7 linked regions of the Homo sapiens genome follow. The protein of the gene in region 5 purifies or fractionates together with the protein of the main gene of each other region. This does not show direct contact. Each region holds a gene or a part of one and is shown on either strand. Other genes may lie near its edges.

What was found.
Region 1: the proteins of BACH2 (region 5) and ZNF131 purify together in Homo sapiens (affinity purification with mass spectrometry; one large-scale study listed by BioGRID and IntAct). This does not show direct contact.
Region 2: the proteins of BACH2 (region 5) and ZBTB17 purify together in Homo sapiens (affinity purification with mass spectrometry; one large-scale study listed by BioGRID and IntAct). This does not show direct contact.
Region 3: the proteins of BACH2 (region 5) and KLHL21 purify together in Homo sapiens (affinity purification with mass spectrometry; one large-scale study listed by BioGRID and IntAct). This does not show direct contact.
Region 4: the proteins of BACH2 (region 5) and ACOX3 purify together in Homo sapiens (affinity purification with mass spectrometry; one large-scale study listed by BioGRID and IntAct). This does not show direct contact.
Region 6: the proteins of BACH2 (region 5) and ATF7 purify together in Homo sapiens (affinity purification with mass spectrometry; one large-scale study listed by BioGRID and IntAct). This does not show direct contact.
Region 7: the proteins of BACH2 (region 5) and CCDC88A purify together in Homo sapiens (affinity purification with mass spectrometry; one large-scale study listed by BioGRID and IntAct). This does not show direct contact.

Annotation. Positions count from the first base shown.
Region 1 is NC_000005.10:43,141,414-43,144,913, reverse strand, and holds part of ZNF131 (zinc finger protein 131), read right to left. Parts: intron 1-3,500. UniProt on the Homo sapiens protein: Plays a role during development and organogenesis as well as in the function of the adult central nervous system. May be involved in transcriptional regulation as a repressor of ESR1/ER-alpha signaling.
Region 2 is NC_000001.11:15,969,602-15,973,101, forward strand, and holds part of ZBTB17 (zinc finger and BTB domain-containing protein 17), read right to left. Parts: 5' UTR 3,438-3,500; intron 1-3,437. UniProt on the Homo sapiens protein: Transcription factor that can function as an activator or repressor depending on its binding partners, and by targeting negative regulators of cell cycle progression.
Region 3 is NC_000001.11:6,596,370-6,599,869, reverse strand, and holds part of KLHL21 (kelch-like protein 21), read left to right. Parts: intron 1-417; coding exon 418-823; intron 824-3,500. UniProt on the Homo sapiens protein: Substrate-specific adapter of a BCR (BTB-CUL3-RBX1) E3 ubiquitin-protein ligase complex required for efficient chromosome alignment and cytokinesis.
Region 4 is NC_000004.12:8,434,224-8,437,723, forward strand, and holds part of ACOX3 (peroxisomal acyl-coenzyme A oxidase 3), read right to left. Parts: intron 1,745-3,500; exon of another isoform or gene 1,700-1,744; intron 1-1,699. UniProt on the Homo sapiens protein: Oxidizes the CoA-esters of 2-methyl-branched fatty acids.
Region 5 is NC_000006.12:90,290,344-90,293,843, forward strand, and holds part of BACH2 (transcription regulator protein BACH2), read right to left. Parts: exon of another isoform or gene 2,140-3,500; intron 1,603-2,139; exon of another isoform or gene 907-1,602; intron 1-906. UniProt on the Homo sapiens protein: Transcriptional regulator that acts as a repressor or activator. Binds to Maf recognition elements (MARE). Plays an important role in coordinating transcription activation and repression by MAFK.
Region 6 is NC_000012.12:53,535,883-53,539,382, forward strand, and holds part of ATF7 (cyclic AMP-dependent transcription factor ATF-7), read right to left. Parts: intron 2,459-3,500; exon of another isoform or gene 2,324-2,458; intron 1,671-2,323; coding exon 1,533-1,670; intron 1-1,532. Other genes in the region: ATF7-NPFF readthrough protein, read right to left, coding at 1,533-1,670. UniProt on the Homo sapiens protein: Stress-responsive chromatin regulator that plays a role in various biological processes including innate immunological memory, adipocyte differentiation or telomerase regulation.
Region 7 is NC_000002.12:55,413,357-55,416,856, forward strand, and holds part of CCDC88A (girdin), read right to left. Parts: intron 1-3,500. UniProt on the Homo sapiens protein: Bifunctional modulator of guanine nucleotide-binding proteins (G proteins). Acts as a non-receptor guanine nucleotide exchange factor which binds to and activates guanine nucleotide-binding protein G(i) alpha subunits.

The sequences.
Region 1 (3,500 bases), on a different chromosome or scaffold from region 5:
TGTTGGCTCTCACCTGAGACCAGAAAGATGAGTAAAATTTTGCCATGAACAAGCAGACAGATGGCATTCCAAGAAATGAAAAGAACATATGCATAATCATGTTATTATGTGGCAGATATTGTTTTAAGAGCTTTACGTGTACCACTTCCTTAAAACATAAATCTAAGACAGGATAAAATATTTGGAGATTTGATCTGACCCACAGCTCACTTTTCAAATAGCCTTAAACACAAGACATTTGTCAAAAAACAATCAATGGCAACTGTTTATCATTGCAACTACTGTGGTGGCATTACAAGTTTGGGCTATCAAGAAGCTGAACAAAAACTGAAAGGAAAAACTGGAGAATGAGATGTTCATAGGGGGCTTTAAAAAGCTCTGACAGACTGGACGTGATGGCTCATGCCTGTCATCCCAGTACTTTGGGAGGTCAAGGCAGGTGGATCACCTGAGGTCAGGAGTTCAAGACCAGCTTGGCCAACATGGTGAAACTCCGACTCTACCAAAAGTAAAAAAAATTAGTTGGGCGTGGTGGTGAGCGCCTATAATCCCAGCTACTCAGGAGGCTGAGGCAGGAGAATCACTTGAACCTGGCAGGCGGAGGTTGCGGTGAGCCAGGATCGTGCCAACACAAAGCTCTGTCTCCAAAAAAAAAAAAAAAAAAAAAAAAAAAAAAGAAAGAAAGAAAAAAAGGCCAGGCGCCGTGGCTCACGCCTGTAATCCCAGCACTTTGGGAGGCCGAGACAAGTGGATCACGAGGTCAGGAGATCGAGACCATCCTGGCTAACACAGTGAAATCTCGTCCCTACTAAAAATACAAAATATTAGCTGGGCGTGGTGGCGAGTGCCTGTAGTCCCAGCTACTCGGGAGGCTGAGGCAGGAGAATAGCGTGAACCTGGGAGGTGGAGCTTGCAGTGAGCCAAGATCGCACCACTGCATTCCAGTCTTGGGGACAGAGCGAGACTCCGTCTCAAGGAAAAAAAAAAAAAAAAAAAAAAAAAAAAAAAAAAAAAAGCTCTGACAATATTCCAGAGAACCTAGAGGGCCATACACATGCACAGAGCTGTATACATGTCCAGGAAAGACCTTAGCAACTCTCATCTCTATCTGACCTTGAGGTTCTGTTAACACAGGAAGTAAAGGCTAAAGCAGTTGTAAACTGCTTGATGGGACACTGATGGTGTACCCTATAAAGAGCTCCCCAACAAAAATGTGGAGACTTACTGGTTTAAGACTTTTAAGAAAATTTCTGTCCAATGATCAGTTTGTTCAGTAAACTACCTATGCAGACTTCAGTGGCCATACACACAAAATGTAGACTGTACAGAATTACAGGAAAGGGATTACAGAAGTCCAGGAAAGTCACTAAACCAGTAACAACAATAAGAAACGATGTCTGGCTCATCTAAACTAGTTCCAGTGGGATAGGAAATTAAGAAACTTCAAATACAGCGTGTAGTTGAAGATGATAAACTTGCAACAGTGGAGAAGCAGATCACTGCTTTTGAGGACTATGTGCAGTCCATGGATGTGGCTGCTTTCAACAAGATCTAAAATCCATCCTGGATCACTGCACTTAAATAAAAGCTTGAGGCCGGGCGCAGTGACTCGTGCTTGTAATCCCAGCACTTTGGGAGGCAGAGGCGGGCAGATCACAAGGTAAAGAGATGAGACCATCCTGGCCAACATGGTGAAAACCCCATCTCTACTAAAAATACAAAAATTAGCTGGGCGTGGTGGCGTGTGCCTGTAGTCCCAGCTACTCGGGAGATTGAGGCAAAGGAATCGCTTGAACCCGGGAAGCAGAGGTTGCAGTGAGCCGAGATCACGCCACTGCACTCCATCCTGGTAACAGTGAGACTCTGTCTTCAAAAAAAAAAAAAAAAGCTTGAAAGATTAAAAAAAGAAACCATGTCTGGCCAAGTATGGTGGCTTATGCCTGCAATCCCGGCACTTTGAGAGGCTGAGGTGGCCACGTCTCTTGAGCCCAGGAGTTCGAGACTAGTAGCCTGGGCAACATGGTGAAATCCTGTCTCTACAAAGAAATACAAAAATTAGCCAGGCATGGTGGCAAGCATCTGTGGTCCCAGCTACTTGGGAGGCTAAGGTGGGAGGATCTCTTGAGGCCGGGAAGTTGAAGCTGCAGTGAGCTGAGATTGTGCCACTGCACTCCAGCCTGGGTGACAAAGCAAGACCCTGTCTCAAAAAACCAAACCAAACCCAAACAAATCATGTCTGAGAGACAGAATGGGGGTGGGGAGGTAGGGGGTGGGATCTAAATAAAACTTATTTAAAAATATCCAATTTTTGGCCGGGTGCCATGGCTCACGCCTATAATCCCAGCACTTTGGGAGGTCGAGGCAGGTGGATCACGAGGTCAGGAGGTCAAGACCAGCCTGGCCAAGACGGTGAAACACCCTCTCTATTAAAAATACAAAAAAATTAGCCGGGTGTGGTGGCGGAAGCCTGTAATCACAGCTACTCGGGAGGCTGAGGCAGAGAATTGCTTGAACCCGGGGGAGGCGGTGGTTGCAGTGAGCCGAGATCTCACCAGTGTACTCTCCAGTCTGGGCGATGGAGTCTTGCTCTGTTGCCCAGGCTGGAGTGCAGTGGCATGATCTCAGCTCACTGCAACCACCGCCTCCCGGGTTCAAGCAATTCTCTGCCTCAGCCTCCCGAGTAGCTGGGATTACAGGCGCCCGCCACAACGCCTGGCTAATTTTTTTTGTATTTTTAGTAGAGATGGGGTTTCACCGTCTTGGCCAGGCTGGTCTTGAACTCCTGACCTAGTGATCCACCCGCCTCGGCCTTCCAAAGTGCTGGGATTACAGGTGTGAGCCACCGTGCCCAGGCCAAAAATCTAATTTTTAACCAAAAAAAATGATGAGACATACAAAGAAACAGTAAAATAAGGCTCATGCATGGGGGAAAAAGTCAACAGAAACCATCTCTGTAGAAGCTTAAACACTGCATTATTATAAACAGCCAACATATAATACTACTGTCTTCCTCTTTTCAAAGGGAACTCTTCAGAACATATTACATGCCTATCTGGTTCAAGAAACAATTCAACATGTTACTGTGTTTATACTGAAAAGCAATGATTGTTTTAGGTACTATTGGAATTCCAGTTTTTTTTTTTTTTGAGACAGGGTCTCATTCTCACCCAGGCTGGAGTGCAGTGGTGCAATCTCGGCTCACTGCAACCTCTGAGTCTCCCATGCTCAAGCGATCGTACCACCTCAGTCTCCTGAGTACCTGGGACTACAGTTGCACGCCACAGTGCCAGCTAATTTTTGTATTTTTCATAGAGTTGGCGTTTCACCATGGTGCCCAGGCTGGTCTCAAACTCCTGAGGTCCAAGTAATCCACCCACCTTGGCCTCCCAAAGTGCTGGGATTACAAGTATCAGCCACTGCGCCAGGCTTGGGATCCCAGTCTTGAATCTTCTCCAAAGTGACATACCACTCACTATCATGAGCAGCAAAAGGGCCACAGA
Region 2 (3,500 bases), on a different chromosome or scaffold from region 5:
GGAGGGTGGGGGGAGCAGGGCAGGGAGATGATAAATTGACCATTATCTCAGGATGTCTCTTTCTGACTGCCAATATCTTCGCCATCGCCAGCATCACCAACCCAGACTGGCTCAACACCAGGGAGTCTGTGGGAGCACTCACTGTGGGCCTCATGGGACAGTGTCAAACAATGCGTGGACGAGAGGGGATGTGCATCCCTCCCCAGCTTCCCCTGGAGTGGGTCACCATGCTGTTTTTTATCATCATGGGAATCATTTCATTGACTGTAAAATTCCCCTTAGACAGACGGAGGCAGCTAGGACTCTGGAGTCAGGTGTGAATCTGCCCTCCCATTGATTGTCACATGTGGTTTGCTGGTGGCTTCCCACTGGGGAAGAGAAGCTACAAAATATGTTCGATGGATAGCATTCACTGGGATGATGCTTTTCTGTATGGCTGCCGTCATATTTCCAATAGGATTTTACATCAATGAAGTCAGAGGTCAACCTTATAAATTACCCAACACCACAGTAGTTGGGTCATCATATGTACCTTTTGTCTTATCAATTTCTTTACAATAGTAGGACTTCTATTTGCTGCCAAGTTTATTTGCCAAGCTGATAAATGTCTAAATTGCTTGACTCTCACTTATTTTTGAAGGGTGAGGAGGACAAAGGCGAGACATCTGAGCAGCCCTCATGGGAAGATGCTCACATGAAACTGATGCTGAGAAGGAAAAATAAAAAAAGTTTTGATTTGCTCTCACTATGCACTTTGGACTTAAAGAAGAAAAAAAAAAAAAAGGAAGAGCCTTTTTGTTTTATTTTTGAGACAGAGTCTCACTCTGTCACCTAAGCTAGAATGCAGTGGCGTGATCTCAGCTCACTGCAACCTCCGCCTCCCGGGTTCTCCTGCCTCAGCCTCCCGAGTAGCTGGGACTACAGGCACCCACCACCACACCCAGCTAATTTTTTTTTTTTCTCTTGAGATGGAGTCTCGTTCTGTCACCCAGGCTGGAGTGCAGTGGCGTGATCTCGGCTCACTGCAACCTCCGCTTCCCAGGTTCAAGTGATTCTCTTGCCTCAGACTCCTGAGTAGCTGGGATTACAGGCGCCTGCCACTGCGCCCAGCTAATTTTTGTATTTTTAGTAGAGACGGAGTTTCACCATGTTAGCCAGGATGGTCTCGATCTCCTGACCTCGTGATCCACCCACCTCAGCCTCCCAAAGTGCTGGGATTACAGGCGTAAGCCACCGCGCCCAGCCAGGAGAGCCTTTTCCATAACCAAATACAGACAATACTGACTAAATCTCCTGAGCATATTCAGGCAGTCAGGTCTGCACTGTGATAGCAACCTAGAGAAGGAGAATGCTTTCTACTGAAAAGCATGTGGCCCTTTGTGACTCTGTTGTTCCATTTTTAATATCTAATGATTCAATAGAGGGAAAAAAAAAGTCTAAGTAGTTATGTATCATGGTGGACCAGAGGGATGCAAGAGAAGTTCATGTGGGGCTGGCCTCACCTCCTGAGAAATCAGTGTTCACAACTTCCTTGTAATAGTATGAGCCTTTGGCACCATTACTGCACCAAGAAGCCAATAGATCAAAACTTGTTTGCTAAAATGTATGTAAAAATTCTGAAATTCCCTATTCTGTGTGTATGAAAAAAAAAAATCAAACACTAAGACACATGTTTTGGGTAGGTAGGTGGGTGGGTGGGGGAAATCTCTCTCTCTCTCTGTATGTGTGTATGTATATATATATATGTACATACACACACAATATATATATATACACACACTATATATATATACACACTATATATATACACACACACTATATATATATACACACACACTATATATATACACACACACTATATATACACACACACTATATATATACACACACTATATATATATACACACACACTATATATATACACACACACTATATATATACACACACACTATATATATACACACACACTATATATATATACACACACACTATATATATACACTATATATATAAAATATATATTTTGCTGACAGAAAAAAAAAAACGAAAAGGTTGGGGAGTGCTGCACTATGCAGCAAACCCTGTGAATTACCTGCCTGACCTCATGTAATTCTCCAGACAATTCTGTGAATTACCTGCCTGTCCTCATGTAATTCTCCAAACAATTCTGTCATCCCTATTTTACAGATGAGGAAACTGAGGCTCAGCAATGAAACTGAGTAAAAGGCTTGCTGTCTGATGTGTCAGAAGACAATCTTGTGATTAGGAAAATTAATAGTCATTACTTTTTTTTTTTTTAACTCTTTGGGACACAGTTTCAGAAGGAACTGACTGTCAGGACACAGAGCCACTCAACGGGAGGGCAGATTCACACCTGACCCCAGAGTCCTAGCTGCCTCTACCTGTCCAAGGGGAATTTTACAGTGATCAGTCCAAAATGCGCGGTTTGCAACATCTTCACCCCCTCAGGAAAGCCTTCCAGCGCCAGTGCATCCTCCCTGTGTGCGCACACCCTCCACCAGCCCTCCAAGGTATTTCCTGCATTGCATTGTGAGGATACACATGGCTGGGAGCACCTGCTCCCGGGATTCAGTCTTACTTGTGCCAGCATCCCTAGCACCCAGCACAATGCCTGACACATGTTGGGCACAGAAACAATGAATGGATAAACAAGCCTGGCCTCCCTGGGCCCAAGCCCTGTAAACCTACCCAAAGCCAGAGCAGCCTGCCTTGGGGACTCAGTGGACCTCCCCTCAGGCTGGGATCACACCCCCAAGAGAGTAATCCAGACAGACTGAGGACAGAGCAGGTTCTCTCAGCCAGCTTTTTCTCCAGCACTGAAACAGTCACAATCTGTTCTTTAGCTGTGCACCAGATGCAGGAACTGGCTTATGTTTGGGAACCATGTTGCACAAAAATCCCACCTTAAACATTAGAACTTTAAAAGGAATGAGTGTGTGCTCGCTGCTCTGTGTCCCTTTTTGCCCTAGGGAGATCATACATGATGGCAGGAGCTACAGCAGCCAGCTTGGACCATGAGATGGAAGCCTAAGTTTGAGCAAGAAAAGCCACATTATCAAAGGAATCCTGCTCCCAGATGATCTCACAGAACACAGCAAGCTGTGCTACCAGCTCTGGACTGTGTACTTCCAGAATGTTAAGGAGCAAGGAATAAACTTCTGTTTCCACCACTGTAGATTTCACCTAACTAAAGGCGTGAGCATTGCCCAGTGATCATCCACTCTGGCCTCTCTCTGCAGGTAAAACAATAATAGTAAGATCAACAATTTCCCAACCAAACTGTAACTGGGATTTTGTCATTACTATATAATTTTGAAGAAAAGGCTATCAGGAAAGAATCATTTGAATCATGTTGAACCTAGAGAAAAAGGACAAACTGATCTGATTTGTTTCATCCTTGAGTATTACAGACATACCTCAGATTTCCAGACAGCCCAGGCTACTCTTTTCTGACAGTTTGCCTGTGTAAACTCCAGCTT
Region 3 (3,500 bases), on a different chromosome or scaffold from region 5:
GCTTGGAGGGTGCCCAGGAAGCCTAGGAGTTAGTGAGCAAGTCCCTGTGTGCCCTGCTGACAAGCTCTGTGGCTCCCCAGGAGAACTGTCCCAAGGCCCAGGGCTCTGGTCTGCTGAGGTGTATGTATGGCTGGGGGGCGGTGTCCAGAGGAGGCTGCTGGATTCTTCCAGCATTGCACTCAGGACCTTTGTTTGGTAGAGGCTTGGCAGCAGTCATCTCGCTGGACAGTGGTCAGCGTGTGCTTTGCCTTAGCCACAACATGTGGCCTGGGCTTTTGGGGAGAGGGTGTGCGTCTGGGGTGAAGCCCAGTGATGTTAATTCCTCCCAAGGCAGAGGCCCTTGCGGAAGTTCGGGAGGGTGCAGGTGGGTGACTCACCTGAGTGGGCTGATCTTCTGCCTGTCATGCGTCCTGGCAGGTGGGTCCGATGGCTCCCGGCTCTATGACTGCGTGTGGAGGTACAACTCAAGCGTGAATGAGTGGGCGGAGGTGGCGCCCATGCTGAAGGCCCGCGAGTACCACAGCTCCTCTGTGCTGGACGGACTGCTGTACGTGGTGGCCGCCGACAGCACCGAGCGCTATGACCACACCACTGACTCCTGGGAGGCCCTGCAGCCCATGACCTACCCCATGGACAACTGCTCCACCACTGCGTGCCGTGGCCGGCTCTATGCCATCGGCTCCCTGGCTGGCAAGGAGACCATGGTGATGCAGTGCTACGACCCGGACACCGACCTGTGGTCGCTGGTGGACTGCGGCCAGCTCCCGCCCTGGTCCTTCGCCCCCAAGACTGCGACTCTAAACGGACTCATGTACTTTGTCAGGTGAGTTCCAGGTGCCGAGCCCCACTGTGTGTTTGGTGTCTCTTACCAGGCCCTGTCTTAAGCACACATCATGGCTGTTCTCCCTTTTCCACAGATGAGAAACTGAGGCCTAGCTGGGGTTGGAGGCTGGGTCTGTCTCTTTGTTTTTGTTTTGTTTTGTTTTTGAGACGGAGTCTCGCTCTGTCGCCCAGGCTGGAGTGCTGTGGCGCAATCTCAGCTCACTGCAAGCTCCACCTTCCGGGTTCACGCCATTCTCCTGCCTCAGCCTCCAGAGTAGCTGGGACTACAGGCGCCCACCACCATGCCTGGCTAATTTTTTTGTATTTTTTGTAGAGACGGGGTTTCACCGTGTTAGCCAGGATGGTCTTGATCTCCTGACCTCATGATCGGTCCGCCTTGGCCTCCCAAAGTGCTGGGATTACGGGCGTGAGCCACTGCACCCGGTCTGTTTTTTTTTGTTTTGTTTTGTTTTTTTAAAAGAAGAGTTTCGCTTTTGTTGCCCAAGCTGGAGTACAGTGGCGCGATCTTGGCTCACTGCAACCTCTGCCTCCCAAGTTCAAGCCATTCTCCTGCCTCAGCCTGCCAAGTAGCTGGGATTACAGGCATGTGCCACCATGCCTGGCTGATTTTTATATTTTTAGTAGAGACAGGGTTTCTCCATGTTGGTCAGGCTGGTCTAGAACTCCTGACCTCATGTGATCCAGCTGCCTCAGCCTCCCAAAGTGCTGGGATTATAGGCACAAGCCACCACACCTGGCTCATTTTTTAACTTTTTGTAGAGACAGGGTCTCGCTGTATTGCCCCGGCTGGTCTCAAATTCCTAGCTTCAAACAATCGTCTCACATTTCCTGCCTCCCAGAGTGCTGGGATTGTAGGTGTGAGCCCCCACACCCAGCCAGGCCTGGTCTTTCGGAGCCCACAGTGCTTGTTCCATTCCTTTGGGTTTAAGGAAAACCCCAGGCTTTCTTAAGCGATTTCACAGGTGGTGGAGTTGAGCTCTTCCAGCAAGAGTAGGCTGTAGGCTGAGCAGCACGGAGCAGAGACAGGCAGCCTGCGGGTCATCATATGTCTGCTGGCCTTGATGACCTGTCTGGTCACAGCCAAATGCTGCCTCCGGCTGGTTTCTGGGCATCAATGATGGCACGGGGCAGCCCCTCCCTGCTGTACTCCGCTGCTTGTTCACATAATCCTGCTGCTCCCTCCCAGCCTAGAGCCTGCCTGAAGCTCTGGGTCCAGGAGGGAAGGGGAAGAACTGAATGACAGTCCCCACTGTGCCCTTTCGTGCTGGGGCTTTGAATGGGGAGCTTGGGGGATGTGAGCTCCCTGCTCCTTGGCCCCCTGCCTCGCACTGCCAGAGCTGCCCTGGCCTTGGCATCTGCCCCACCATCCCCCCAGACAGGAGGCTCCTTACCAGGCTTTTGGAGTGAGCACCAAGAAGAACAGGGGTGGCGTTGCTTGTCACGCAAGTAGCTGGGCACCACCACATGCCCAGAACCAATGGTCTTGCTCTGAGAAAGCCCTGGAATCTCAGCCAGCTCTGGTCCCATTATAAAACATCATCTGACCCTTTGCCCGGCTCTCCCTCCCCCAAGTTGTGAAGGTGTCTTCAAAGAGGGGGTGGAGATGGCTATAAATACAACTTATCAGAGGGCCAGAACCTTCCTTTCGGCCCCTAGGCAGTGGTTCCAGGCCCAGTGTCTTTGAGAGTCCTCCTCCCCTCCCCCATCTGTCCTAGAGCAAGATGTGAAGATGTGCGCCAGGGAGGTCTGCCTGCTGGGTTAACCTTCCCATAGGGAAGCATGAGGGTCTGCCCCGCCACCCCCACCCACTGCTGACCTTTCCAGGGGTTTCCTAAGCCACTTGCACGTGTGGGAGGAGGCAGTGCTCTGGAAAGGCTGCATGCGTTCATCTTACCAGTGTGACCTGTGCCGGAGCACAGAGGAGGGGCGCCCAGGCTCAGCCTGAGTGGAAGCTGCTTGAGCCCTAAAGAGAAGGCTAAGCATGCAGGGGCCCTGCTTGGGGCTGGTCCCCCTGGGCTATTTGTCCCGGTGTCACTTTGTCTGCGCACTTTGGCTCTTCAAGAGCCACATAACCCTCTGCCCAGAACACCACCTGTCTTTGGGCAGCTTGTGCCTAGGACGTGCCATTCTCAGGGAGGCCACAGCCTCAGCCGTTGTCCATGTGACCCACAAATGACCTGGGCCTCCCTCCCCTTGGTTCTGGTACAAAATGCCTCCTTGGCTGGGGTGCAGTAGCCCCCTCTGGGAATGCCGGCGAGCTCTGTCCAGCCTCTGGGCTGTGGTTTGCAAGTCTCTGCTGGGGAAAGACAGGGCAGCCTAGCAGGTTCCAGGGTGTAATCATCATCATCATCACCACCACCACAGGGCCCACAAACTGAGGGTGACTTTGACATTTTGAAATGATTGGGGGCAAAAAATCAGGAATAACATTTCAAGTTAGACGAGATGTAAATGTCTGTCCATGGATAGTTTTCTTGGCACACAGCCAGGCTCGTGTCTATGCATTGTCTGTGGCTGGTTTTGTGCTGCCGTGTCAGGTTCACAACTACTGTTGTTTGTCTTGTAGTATCTTTGTTTCTTTTTTTTGTTTTTGAGACGAAGTCTCACTCACTATGCCTCCCAGGCTGGAGTGCAATAGCACGCTCTTGGCTCACTGT
Region 4 (3,500 bases), on a different chromosome or scaffold from region 5:
GACCCCTTAAAGTTGTAAGCCTTTAAACAGGCCAAGAATTTCTTTTTCGGGGGGCTCCGCTCTTAAGCCACAAGTCTGCCAGTGCTTCCGGCCGAATAAACCTCTTTCTTCTTTAATCCGGTGTCTGAGGAGTTTTGTCTGCAGCTCGTCCTGCTACATTTCTTGGTTCCCTGACTGAGAAGCGAGGTGATTAAGGGACGTTCAAGCCAGCCCCTTAGGCAGCTTATGCCTGCCCTGTAGAGCATCCCTGTGGGGGGCTCCAGCCAGCTTGCGCGATGCAGATCCTGAGAGTGCTCCCGGGTAGGCATTTGCCCCCGTGGAATGCCTCGTCAGAGTGGTGCATGGCAAGCCCCCGTGGAGGATCAACGCAGTGGCTGAACACTGGGAAGGAACTAGCACTTTAAGTCTGGACATTTGAAACTTGGTAAGACTGGTCTTTGGAACTTGCACACTCCATTTGAGTGGAAGCGTGGCCTGATCACCCATGGCGTGCCTGTACCGGCACTTTGGTTTTTGTTTTTGACTTGACTTGAAATGCTTGATACTTTGGTTTTTGTTTTTGACTTGACTTGAATTACTTGATAAACAGGCGTGCCTTTATTGGCACTTTGGCTTTGGTTCTGATTTTGACTTGGCTTAAATTCCTTGACAAACAGGTGTGCCTTTAATGACACTTTGGTTTTAGTTTTGATTTTCCTTTAGTGTGAATTAGACGAGTGAGTAACCTTTTACCCTTTCCTTCTTGTAGTGTGAATGTTGTTTTGTCTCAAGAGAAAAATAGGTCAAACACAAAGTAAGCCCACTCCGCTAGAAACTGTGTTAAAAAAAAATTTCAAGAAGAAAAATAAAAGGAAAGTCATCTAATCATCAAAACTTACTCTATTAAAATGCATGTTACAGAACCTTAAGAAAGGTTTTGCAGGGGATTACAGAGGTTAAGCCCCCAGAGGTTAAGAACTCTATGTGAATTAGAATTGCCCTCTTTTGCTGGGCGCGGTGGCTCACGCCTATAATCCCAGCACTTTGGGAGGCCGAGGCGGGCAGATCACGAGGTCAGGAGATTGAGACCATCCTGACTAATAGGGTGAAACCCCATCTCTACTAAAAATACAAAAACAAAAAATTAGCCAGGCGTGCTGGCGGGCACCTGTAGTCCCAGCTACTCAAGAGGCTGAGGCAGGAGAATTGCATGAACCTGGCAGGCGGAGCTTGCAGTGAGTGGAGATTGTGCCACTGCACTCCAGCCTGGGCAACAGAGCGAGACTCCGTCTCAAAAAAAAGAAAAAAAAAAAAGAATTGCCCTCTTTTGGTGTTGGATGGCCCACCGAAGGAACTACAGACAGGGAACAATTGGCCATGTATTTAAGGTGGTGACAGGGGTTGGAGGACAGCCAGTGGACCTAGATCAATTCCTTTATATTGATTCATGGTTAAATATAATATAGACAAAAACCAGCATAAATTTAGCCCTGTTTAACAGCTTATTGCAAAAAAGCCAAAAGTGAAAGTAAGAACAGCTGCACCAGCAGACACAGAGTTGAAAAGGGGAGTCCCAGAAAGAGCAAGAGAAGCCAGTTTTGCAGGAGCCGCCAGAGATAACAGAAATTCTTTCTCCATATGGCCCAGCCTACCCCCCTTTACCGAGGCCAACAGCCCCCTGAGAAACGAGATTAAGGAGCTAACATGCCCCAGGTCTCACCTTGAAGGGGAAGATCGGAGCCTCAAGAGGCCAAGGAAGGAAGTCAAGATAGTCAAGTGGGCCCTCTCAGATCTGGTCTTGCTGGAGCTATGCAAATGCCTCTCAGGGAGACACGAGGACCTGTCTATTATAATGACCAAGCCCACATCCAGGGGGTGGGGCAACAGACTTTCATCTATCAGCCCTTTTTAACCATTGATCTACTAAACTGGAAACACCCTGAACCCGCCACCTTGTTCCCAGCAGCTAGAGCCCTGTCGAGCATTAACTGTGTAGAGGTGTTGGACTCAAGTTTACTCTAGCAGACCTGACCTCCGAGACCAGCCTTGGGCATCAGTAGACTGGGAGCTATACATGGACGGGAGCAGCTTCATCAACCCACAAGGAGAGAGATGTGCAGGATATGCAGTGATAACCCTGGACACTGTCGTTAAGCTGAGCTCATTGCTTTAATTCAGGCCTTAGAACTCAGTGAAGGTAAGACTAAACATTTACACTGACTCTCAGTATGCCTGTTTAACCCTCCAACTGCATGGAGAATTATATTTAAAAAAGGGCCTGTTAAGATCTAGGAAAAAGGGGAAAAAAGACCCAGAGAATGCAACTCAGCTTCAGCATTTGCAGCAGTACTAAGAGGCACTTCTGCAGAGGCTAAGAGGTAGTAGAAAAAAAGCAATTAATATAAAAAAGATTTCAGAAGTGCTTCAAGGAGCTGACAAGAGCCTAAGTCAGTTTTATAAGAGACTCTGTAAAGCATTCTGGCTTTACATCCTATTTAACCCTGAGGCTGGTGGCTCACGCCTATAATCCCAGCCCTTTGGAAGGCCGAGGTGGGCAGATCAAGAGGTCAGGAGATCGAGACCATCCTGGCTAACATGGTGAAACCCTGTCTCTACTAAAAAAAAAAAAACACAAAAAAATTAGCTGGGCGTGGTGGCGGGTAGCTGTAGTCCCAGCTACTCGGGAGGCTGAGGCAGGAGAATTGTGTGAACCTGGGAGGTGGAGTTTGCAGTGAGCCGAGATCACACCACTGCACTCCAGCCTTGGCAACAGAGCGAGACTCCATCTCAAAAAAAAAAAAAAAATCAGCATATATATATATTCGAAAAAATATATATAAATATATATATACAAATATATGTAAATATATAGAAATATATACACGTAAATATATATATTTACATATATATGTAAAAAAATATATGTAAATATATATATAAATATATATATAGTGAATACTTCGTTTGTAAAGCAAGCCCAGGGTAACATCAAGCAGAAGCTACAGGCATGAATATCACCCAGTCTATAAAAGTGGCCACCAAGGCGTATGTTAGCTGTGACCAAGGAACAAAACAGGAAAGAGCAAAAGCAACAAGTGCGGCAGCTAGGCACGCCAAGGGTTAAATTCCTCTCCCCGGCTCAGCTCTATCTAGAAAAAAAGAGGAGGCTAGAGACCGGTGCCAAGAGAAGAGCAAAACAAAAAGAAAGACTCACAGTAAGTGTAAAAAAGAGAATCAGAAGAAAATGGGAGAGACAGCAGTGCGCGGGGGCAGGGCCTGTGCCACTGCCTGGCCCCGCCAGGTGGCCATAGAAGCAGGAGAACTCAGGAAGGAAAAAGAAAAACAAAGACTTAAGGAAAAAGGCCAATCTGTTAGCAACAGCTCTTATAAAAAGAGAGATTAGCAATGCGAGAGGACGTGGACACGGATGTAGACGTGGAAGAAGTCAAGTTAGGCAAGGATTCGAGAGCCGGCCAAGGCTAGAGAGACATTAATGTGTGAGATGAAAAAAGAAAGGACAC
Region 5 (3,500 bases):
CTTCCTACCAGATGACGTGCTTCATGAGACCAGGGGCCAGGACTGGGTTTGCTCCCCATTAGCACTGTGGTCACTTAACACTATGCCTGCCATGTAAGAGATACTCAGTATATATTTGTTTAATGAATGAATGAGGCATCTGCCTCTAAGCAACAGTATTTCTGGACACTTGGCCCATTTTGCACTATCCACGAGCTTCTGTTGCTTAGAAGAATACAGGATAGGAAAAAAAGAAAAATTGCCAAAAATCTATGGATACTGAAATACTAAGGAAAGATGCTGAGCATGTACATTCACTTTGTTTCCTACTTGTGGAATGGAAATCATCACATTGGGATCTCCCAACTTTAAAATCCGAAGTGAAGGTCTAAGCTGTCTTTGGGTTAGACTCCTGGAAAGTCTTGAGGAAATTCCTGAAGTATCTGCAGAAAGTGACAGGGGAGGGAGAATAGAAGATGGCCCAAGACTAGAGTGATGGAAGACTTGGAAACTCGAAAAGCTTTCTTCTAACTAACTGGGACTTTGTCTACATGCCAGCTACAGGCTCAGGCACACATGAAGAGAATAATGAGATGAATGGGAGGACTGGAAAGTGGAGGATTTAAATGCTTAGGAAAGGAGCCAATGAAAGCTGACACAAGGACAGGAGGGACCTAGCAACCAAGCGCCGGCTCTCATCACATCAGCAGCAGCATGTCCTACAGCCTTCAGGAAAAGAACAAAAAGGTCAGGGAGGAAAATGACACATCTCAGAACCAAAGGGCAATTCATTATGAGGCTAAGGAACAAAGGAGAAGTCAACCAGGGAATATGCTGAAGAAACGGTGATTATGAAGTCACTGGGGAAGACTGAGAGGCATTTTGGCTGTAGTTCCAATGACTAGAATGAAGGATGATGTGAAATGCTTTTGGATTGGGAAGATTTATTATTTTGGAAAAAAAATAGCTCAAGGAAAAACAAATGGCAAAATTCCTGCCTGAATTTTGAAGTAGTGTCACTAGCAGGATGAGGTTCAATTTATACATTCTTTAGAAATGAAATGGCCCTTGGAAAAGACATAGTGGTAAGATTCGCAGGACATTTCCAGCCTTACGGAAGCTGAGTAGCATGCTGATAGTAAAATTAAGTTTCAGTTTTAGATAGACTGACATTTGAAATTAACAAAAAAAAAAGTAAAGGGAAAAAATTAAAAGACCCTGAACTGACAAAAAAAAAGAAAAAAAAAAGCAACTACTGTCTTTTTTTTTTAAATTAAATGTCATCACAAACAAAAAAAAAAAGGTGAAAGTTGAGTTGTATTTTGGGCAATCTTACTGAGTTTACAAAATGTTTAGTTCATAGCAGGTTTCAGTTTGGACATGAACAGTTTGTAAATATTTACATAAAATTTAAAGATAGGAGGACAGCAGAGGTCATATATTGCTATTAACAATACAGAAGCGATTTTCCGTCATTCCCAAGGCCTTGGTGCTGCGTTCCCATATGTGGCCCCAGCTCTGCCAAAAGCTTGTCTTCTTTTCCAAAGAAATTCCAATTTTTGCAACCAGCATTGACTTCTGAACTGTGAGTACCTCTGACAGGGTCATATGTCGCTGAAACTTCTTCAACATCCAGACAGGGAAAGGAGAAAAACAGGGAGGCAGATTTACAGCGTCTGCTATCTGAATTGCAGATTTTGACAAATATGTTACATTTTATATTGTTCTCTGTTCTATGTGAGGGCAGGGACCATGTTCTCTGTATGTCACAGTCCTACACCATGCCCAGTCATTGATTCAGGACTGGACTGTGTAATGGAATGGGGAAATAACCTTCAGACATTCAAGAAAACATGCACTATATTCAGATTAAGTTCATTCCAACATGAGATTAGTTCTTCCAACTCTGCAGAATGGGCAGGCACGACACCTACTTCAAAGGGTTGCTTTGAGGAATCAATGAAGTACATTCAGGCAAGGTAGTCAGCACTGGGTCTGGCACATGGTGCGGATTCAGTAAATCAAAACTATTATTTTGGTGAGTGTTCTCAAATGTCAAACTCCCATGGAGGTCCTCAGGCATTACCCAGCCAAGTTACCCCATCTGGTCAGTAACAACTAAATAGAGGGCAGGTGGTTCAAAAGTAATGGATTATTCACCTGCAAGGAATCACACTGTACTCATGGTATTAAATTATTCGGCCTTTCATGTCGAATTCTCTGTTAAAAAGGAAGCTGATCAATCCCTGAGTGGGACTCAATGTTGATTTGAAGTTTTGTTTTTTTGGCATCTTTCTATTTTCCAGGTAGTTGTAACCATTCATTGGGTGCATACTCACAAATCATCCACTATATGCCAGGCCTTTAGAAAACAGAGACACACAAAGATATTAAACAAAAAAAGATGTTTCAGTCTGTTCAGTAGTGGGAGACAAGCAGCCCCCAGGCCGACACTAGCTCTTACATATGCTTTCATCCAAAAATTTTTTAAAGATTTGAGCCAATATTTAAAAATCAGGAAATTCCACATAAATATCCAATATTCAGCTTCCCCTGGAAAAATCAAATGATGTGGCAACACAAAGCCAGTAGTCCTACCAACTGTTCCCTAGCAAGAGTCTACAATGAGTTGAGTAGGGGCGGCCTGCCACTCCACACTATGCCCTGCTCCTCACCAGAACCAGGTAAGTACATAATTTGCAGGGCTCAGTGAAAAATGAAAACGAGGGGCCCTTTGTTCAAAAATTATTAAGAATTTCCGAAGAAAACAGCAGAACCTTATACCAAATATGAGGTCCTTCTGAGCAGGGAAGAGGAAGGGGGCCTATGTAACTGCACAGGTCTTATGCCCATGAAGCTAGTACTGGCTCTCACCCCCTGGACACACAGGAAGATATTTATTTATCTAAGTATTCTCTCATTCATTAACAATCAAGCCTGCATTTACAATAAGCTAGATGTCACACCCCTGAAATCTGAGGTTCAAAAACTAGAGTAGAGGGGCCAGGCACAGCAGAGATAGAGAGCCACTAGGGTCTCTTTCCTTTTTGTTAAGACTGGATCCACACCAGAGACACTGAAAGTTAATCCAAGTAAAATTAAACTGCTCTCAACAATACAGATTGGCTTGAGCCCTTTTGTTGGCATCACAGGAGCCTCGATTAGGAATTCTGAGAAACAGCTCACAAGCGCTAATGAATAACTAAGTCCTGTCGGCTGTGCAGACAGTGGGCCCAGAAGTGAAGGGCTGGCCTAGGAGAGATCTGAACATGAACCTGACCATCTGGCCCTCTGTGACTCACTTTGATCACAAAATGAATTGCAACAAATTGAAGAGCACATGGCTAGAGTTAATTGTCTCATCTGTAATCTGAATCTACTTTTAAGCAGTTATTATTACCCTCTATCAGGTGGAAACATTTCCTACCATCACTGCAAAGTGCATTTTCCTGATGAACTATAATGGATCATTAAATTCCATATCTGAATAACAATACTGTGCACTTATTCAGTGCCTTTCA
Region 6 (3,500 bases), on a different chromosome or scaffold from region 5:
GTGCTCACGTCTGTAATCGCAGCACTTTGGGAGGCTGAAGCAAGAGAATTGCTTGAGCCTGGGAGGCAGACGTTGCAGTGAGCTGAGATTGCACCACTGCACTCCAGCCTGGGCATCAGAGCAAGACTTTCTCTCAAAAGAAAAAAAAAAAAAGATGACTTGTTACAGATGTAAAATCAGGATACAGACCATTTCCAGCACCCCAGAAAGTTCTATGTCCCTTTCCAATCCACACCATTCCTTCACAGGAGGTAAATGCTATCCTGAGTTCTATCATTGTCAAACAGTTTTGCCTCTTCTTGAATTTTATAAGTATGTACTTTTGTGTATGACTTTTTTGTTGTTGTTGGATATGTTTGTGGGATTCACTCACATTGCTGTGTAATTATTAGTTCACTTTTTTTTTTTTTTTGAGACGGAGTTTTGCTCTGTCGCTCAGGCTGGAGTGCAATGGTGCAATCTTGGCTCACTGAAACCCTGGCCTCCTGGGTTCAAGCAATTCTCCTATCTCAGCCTCCCGAGTAGCTGGGATTATAGGCACACACCACCACATCCAGCTAATTTTTGTATTTTTGGTAGAGATGGGGTTTCACTATGTTGGCCAGGCTGGTCTTGAACTCCTGGCCTCAAGTGATTCCACCACCTCGGCCTCCCAAAGTGCTGGGATTACAGGCATGAGCCACCGTGCCTGACTGATTTTTGGCTATTAAGAATACAATTGCTGGCCGGGCGCGGTGGCTCAATCCTGTAACCCTAGCACTTTGGGAGGCCGAGGCGGGCAGATCGCCTGAGGTCAGGAGATCGAGACCAGCCTGACAAATGTGGTGAAACCCCATCTCTACTAAAAGTACAAAAATTAGCCGGGCGTGGTGGCACGCACCTGTAGTCCCAGCTACTTGGGAGGCTGAGGCAGGAGAATCGCTCAAACCTGGGAGGCAGAGGTTGCAGTGAGCCAAGATCACGCCATTGCACTCCAGCCTGGGTGACAGAGTGAGACTGTCTCAACAACAACAACAACAACAAAAGAATACAATTGCTATGAACATTCTAACATACTTCTTTTGGTAGACATATGCACTAATTTCTCTTCCATATAGACTTATAAGTGAAATTGCTGGGAAGGAGAATAGGTATAATTTATATAAATCTTCTAAATATTCCTTTAAATACAATCGGTCCTCCTATAATACATACTTTTTTTTTTCTTGAGACAGTCTCACTCTGTTGCCCAGGCTGGGGTGCAGTGGAGCAATCACAGCTCACTGCAGCCTCGACCTCTAGGGCTTAAGTGATCCTCCACCTCATACTCTCAAGTAGCTGGAACTACAGGCATGCTCCACCACGCCCAGGTAATTTTTGTATTTTAAGTGGAGATGGGGTTTCTCCATGTTGCCCAGGCTGGTCTTGAATTTCTGGGCTCAAGTGATTCTCCCATCTTGGCCTCCTGAGTAGTTAGGACATACTATTTATATAATTAATGAATCAAAACTTTATCAATTAACATTTGAGATGATCCTTGGTAGAGAATTTACCTTCTCCTTCAGTGGTGGGGAACAGGGACTAGAGGCAGGGCTATCAGGTGGGGATGAGTCTACCTCCACTGGCTCTTCTTCTTTGATTTTGATGTCTGGTGTGGAAGGCAGAGACATGTCAAGGGGCCCAGCAGCAGCCTGTTGTGAAAGAAAAATGAACAGAGTTTAACCCTATGATTCCTTTCAGGTTGAATCTATATTTTCCCATTTCCAAGATAAGGGAATATGCTTCTAAGAAGTTCTGCTCTTATACAATGCACTGAACTGCATGTCAAATAAATGTGGGCCCCTTATGTTTGATTTGTTTTGTATTTTGAGGCGTAGTTTCAATCTTGTTGCCCAGGCTAGAGTGCAATGGTGTGATCTCGTCTCACTGCAACTTCCACCTCCCAAGTTCAAGAGATTCTCCCGCCTCAGCCTCCCAAGTAGCTGGGATTATAGGCATGTGCCACCACGCCCAGCTAATTTTTTATTTTTAATAGAGATGGGGTTTCTCCATGTTGGTCAGGCTGATCTCGAACTCCCGACCTCAGGTGATTCACCTGCCTCAGCCTCCCAAAGTGTTGGGATTACAGGAATGAGCCACTGCATCCGGCCAAGAAATATGGGCCCCTTATGTTTTATGTACAATTCTGGCCAAATCATTTTGTCGGTAATTCTCAGGGCTTCTGTTTCCCCAACTATAAGATGAAGATAATACCTGCTTCACCAATGGTAAACAAATATTTATAAAGACCTGAAAAAAAAGATGCCATTTAAATCCATGCAAATATTATGATAATATTTTTCAGGAAATCAAAATAATTCCTGAATCTGCTGGCCACTGGAGAGCTGTGAACACTTTCTCTGCCAACAAGGATTACCCAATTACCAAAAGCAAACAAAGACAAACTGGCTATTCAAGTACTGCAAACCAGATAGGAAAGGTATTTTCTGGGGAACTCACCATGCTTGATGGTGATCTCACCCCAAAATATGGTGCTGGATGTATCAGGTAGACAAGGGGTTTGGGGTAACAGAAAAGAAAGGCTGATCATCTGATTGGTGAAATAAATGACAACTTGGTCTTAGGAGCAAGACTGGAGAAAACCAGAAAGGAAAGAGAGCACTTTCCTGGCAGTGATGCAATCACCTCACAGAACTGTGGAGCTGTAAACGGCCTTGCAGGGAACAATAAACCATCTGAGATAATGGCCTTGACACTGAACCAGGATAGGAGGGTTGGCATTGCAGTTCAGTTTCATAACAAAGTGGATCCTTTGTTCTATCTATCCTGTATCCCAGGCTTCTTGGTGAAGCAACTGCTTGTTTCAAGATCTTCCCTTGCTACCCTAACCCTTAGAAACCTTCTTGATAGCTAGCTGAGTAAATTAAAGATAATGTGATATCTACTACATTAGAGAAGGTAGTAGTGGTTCATTTTCCCCAATCTGAGGAGGGTGAGCAACAGCAAAAGTAGCTTCATTTCTGCCTCATTTTTTCTACATAGCTAAGATGTCAGGTCCAATTTAGCTAATTCTGAGATCTCTTAAGTCAGAGACTAGTGGGAAGGAGAAGCCTCTAAGTAAATACAACCATAGATTTGAAATCCTCTAGGGCATCTCCTAGCAAAGCTGCGGTTCAGCAAAGTTCCACACTCATTAAACACTTCTGGAGACTCTTCCACTGAGCCTGTACTTCTCATTAAGGGGAAGTAAAGACCACTCCTGTACAGGCAGGAGGATACACCAAGGAATGCCCAGTGAGGAAAGGGCTGACTATAAACTAGTCTCCCAGAAGTGTCAACTGAGCTAAAATGGCAATGAAAAAGACTTGAAGCTTTTTATGGGAAGCTAATTTTCTTGAATTTGCCTATAATAAATTGGGTATAAAATCCCTCATAGGCCAAGTGTGGTGGCTCATGCCTGTAATCTCAACACTTTGGGAGGCCAAGGTGGGAGGATCACCTGAGGCCCGAAATTCTAGACC
Region 7 (3,500 bases), on a different chromosome or scaffold from region 5:
GACTTATCTGTCCCTGCCTTAGTAGATAATCCTTCCCCATCAGGAAGGGAAACATTATCTCCCATCTTATAAATGTAGGAACTGTAATTTGGAGATATTAGGCTCACATACCAATAAGTAGCACAGCTAGAACTGAACCCAAGTCTATGTCTATCTGACATAAGGCTCAAATTCATTCCACTTTACTACACATGGCTGTATTATTCAATCATTCAACAGAAATATATCAAGAATGTACTGTGTGTCAAACACTGTCCTAAGAATACAGAGACAAAAGATAGAGTCCCTGGCTTCAGGAAACTCACAGCCTAGTCAATAGAGTCAAGCAAAGAGTCAGGCTGGTTTGTGCCTATAATCCCAGAACTTTGGGAGGCTGAGGTGGGTGGATCGCTTGAGACCAGCCTGGGCAACACAGTGAAACTCCATCTCTACAAAAAATACAAAAATTAGTCAAGCATGGTAGCGCGTGCCTGTGGTCCTAGGTACTTGGGAGGCTAAGGTGGGAGGATAGCTTGAGCCCGGGAGGTGAAGGCTGCAGTGAGCGGTGATCATGCCCCTGCACTCCAGCCCGGGCAACAGAACAAGACCGTCTCAAAAAACAAAAACAAAAACAAAAAAAAAAAACAAGCAAACAAACAAACAAAAAAGGGCAGATGACTTCTGAAGTCCCTTCAAACCCAAAATTCTAAAGGAAAAGCCATAACAAGTTTATCACAATTACCAAGTGTTCCAAGTACAGCTCTCTATAACTATCTAATAGGGTTGAATCATAAATAATAATTCCAAATATTGTTCTGATACTATTAACAATTTTCTCAGTACTTAAAATCCTAAGACATCCATATTTTCAACCGTTTGGGTAATATGAATTGGACGTTTTTAAAATTTTAGGAGTATGAAATTAACTACAATGTCACAAATTCCTTAAAAACTCACAGCAAGTAATATTCAAAACTGGCTCCAGAATTAAATGACATCTCAAACAGGAAAATAATTATTTCTACTTCACTGTCACCAAGCCCTACAACTGATAACAATAAAGAAAAAAGATTTCAATCCACTGAAGTAGGAAAATGCCCTACAGCGTACAGAAGAGCTGGCCCATCATTCCAGATCTCTGAATAGCTTTCCTCTTCCTTCCCATTAGTTTAAGACGATTGAAGTCATGTTACAAGTTCTAACAGAGATTATTTGCTTCAAAAAGCTACTCAATGAAATTCAGGATTCATCTCTGAATACAGTAAATCTCAAGTCAGTGAAAAGACTTCAAAATTGTGAGGCAGAGTCAGTAAACAGTGTCATGAAGAAGTTAGCTCTTCACTTTCAGAGTCTGGGTGCAAAACAGCAACAACAGAGTCATTAAATTAATCAATTTTCTTAGTCTTAATAAACATTTTAGATGAAAAAACTTATATAATAAGGTTCCTGGCCAGGTGTGGTGGCTAATGCCTGTAATCCCAGCACTTTGGGAGGCTGAGGCAGGCGGATCACGAGGTCAGGAGATCGAGACCATCCTGGCTAACACGGTGAAACCCCGTCTCTACTAAAAAAATACAAAAAATTAGCCAGGCGTGGTGGTGGGTGCCTGTAGCCCCAGTTACTCGGGAGCCTGAGGCAGGAGAATGGCGTGAACCCGGGAGGTAGAGCTTGCAGTGAGTTGAGATCACACCACTGCACTCCCGCCTGGGCATGGAGCGAGACTCTGTTTCAAAAAAAAAAAAAAAGGTTCCTATAAAAAAAGTCCATCTCACATCTAAAAGCAGTAATATAAGACTAGCAGAGCAAAAATGTAATTAAAAGTATATAAACAGCCAGGCATTGTGGTGCGCGTGCCTGTAGTCCCAACTACTCAGATGTTTAGGGTGGGAGGATGGCCTGACCCCAGGAGTTTGAGGCCATAATGCACTATGATCACATATTCCAGCCTGAGCAACATAGCCAGACCCCATCTTGAAAAACAAAAAAGTATACAAACATATTTCTACTGGTGGCCAGAGACCAAATTTGCCCTCCTCCCTGAAACAACTGGGGGGAAAAAAAGACAAAATACATAAAACGTTTTTCAAGACATTGGACATCAGGCAACAAAAGACAGTGATCCCCAATCGATGGGAAACAAGCATGAATCCAACAACTGCTCCAGCATTATGGCCTTGAAAGAGTTTCCAGGCCACAGAACAGGAAGAGGGGAATCCAGGCAGAGCACAATGGTCTGAGCTGAGGGGACAGAACTGAGTCTGGAGACAGCAAGGTAGCTAAAGTACACAGGGCAGAGTACTTAACAGAGTTGAACAGTGAGAAAGATCTGCAGAGGGTATCCCTCAAGTCTGAGTACTTATCAGAATATAAGTGTGAGGAAACTACCCAAAGATAGTGAAAGAACCACCAAAAAGACTGAGAGCGAACACCACCAAGTAGGTCCTGTTTCCACCAGCTGGAGTATTCAGAGGGGTTTTGCCTCAACAGTGTGACAAAGTAGTACTGCCTAACAAATCTTAAAAGCATGTCCCCAAAAGATCAAACTGTTTTCAGGTAACTTAATGCATCCCAGAACGAAGCTCAAGATTTTTGTATTTAATGGAATACAAAAATATCCAGCGCCAAACAAGCTAAAATTTCAAATGACTGGCATCAAATTAAAAAAAAAATCACCAGGCATGCAAAAGCAACAGAATCCATAATGGGAAGAAATATCAATCAACCGAAACCAACCCCAAAATGACACAGACAGAATTAGCAGACATAGACATTAAGCCAATTATAACTGTATTCCATATGTTCAAGAAGCTAGAGAAAAGACAGAGCATGAAAAACATAGACATGGAAGATATAAGACAATTTCTAAAGATGAAGTTATAATATCTGGAATGAAAAATATGGTGGGTGGGATTAAGAGCAGACTAAACATTATAGAAGAAAAAATTAATAAATTTGGAGACATCACAACAGACTATCCAAAATGAAACAAAGAAGACTGAAAGAAAATTGAATTAAACATCAGTAAGTTTTAAGACAACATCAAAGCTACTAATATATATGTAACTGGACTTCCAAAAGGGTGAAGAGGTCAAATAAATAAATAAATAAATATATATATATATATATATATATATATATATATATATATATATGTATATATTTTCTTCTAGGAATAATGACTGAAACTTTTCTAAATTTGATAAAAACTATAAACCCACAGATCCAAGACACTCATTGAATTCCAAGCACAAGAAACATGGAAAATATATAAATAGTTTCATTTACAAAGGGTTCTTGCTCACAAATTCTGTAACTAAATGTACTGTAGAAATTAGACTAGGCCTAACTTTTACATTTACTAGGTATAGAGTTACAACTGACACTTTATAATAGAGTACATTAAAGCATACATTAATCTAAGTAAAGTGCTTAACAGAAATCCTAATGACTTCAAAATTAGCAAAATACAGCTTATAAAACAATGTATATTTTGTTGCCCTATCAGTTAAATAATTTATTAA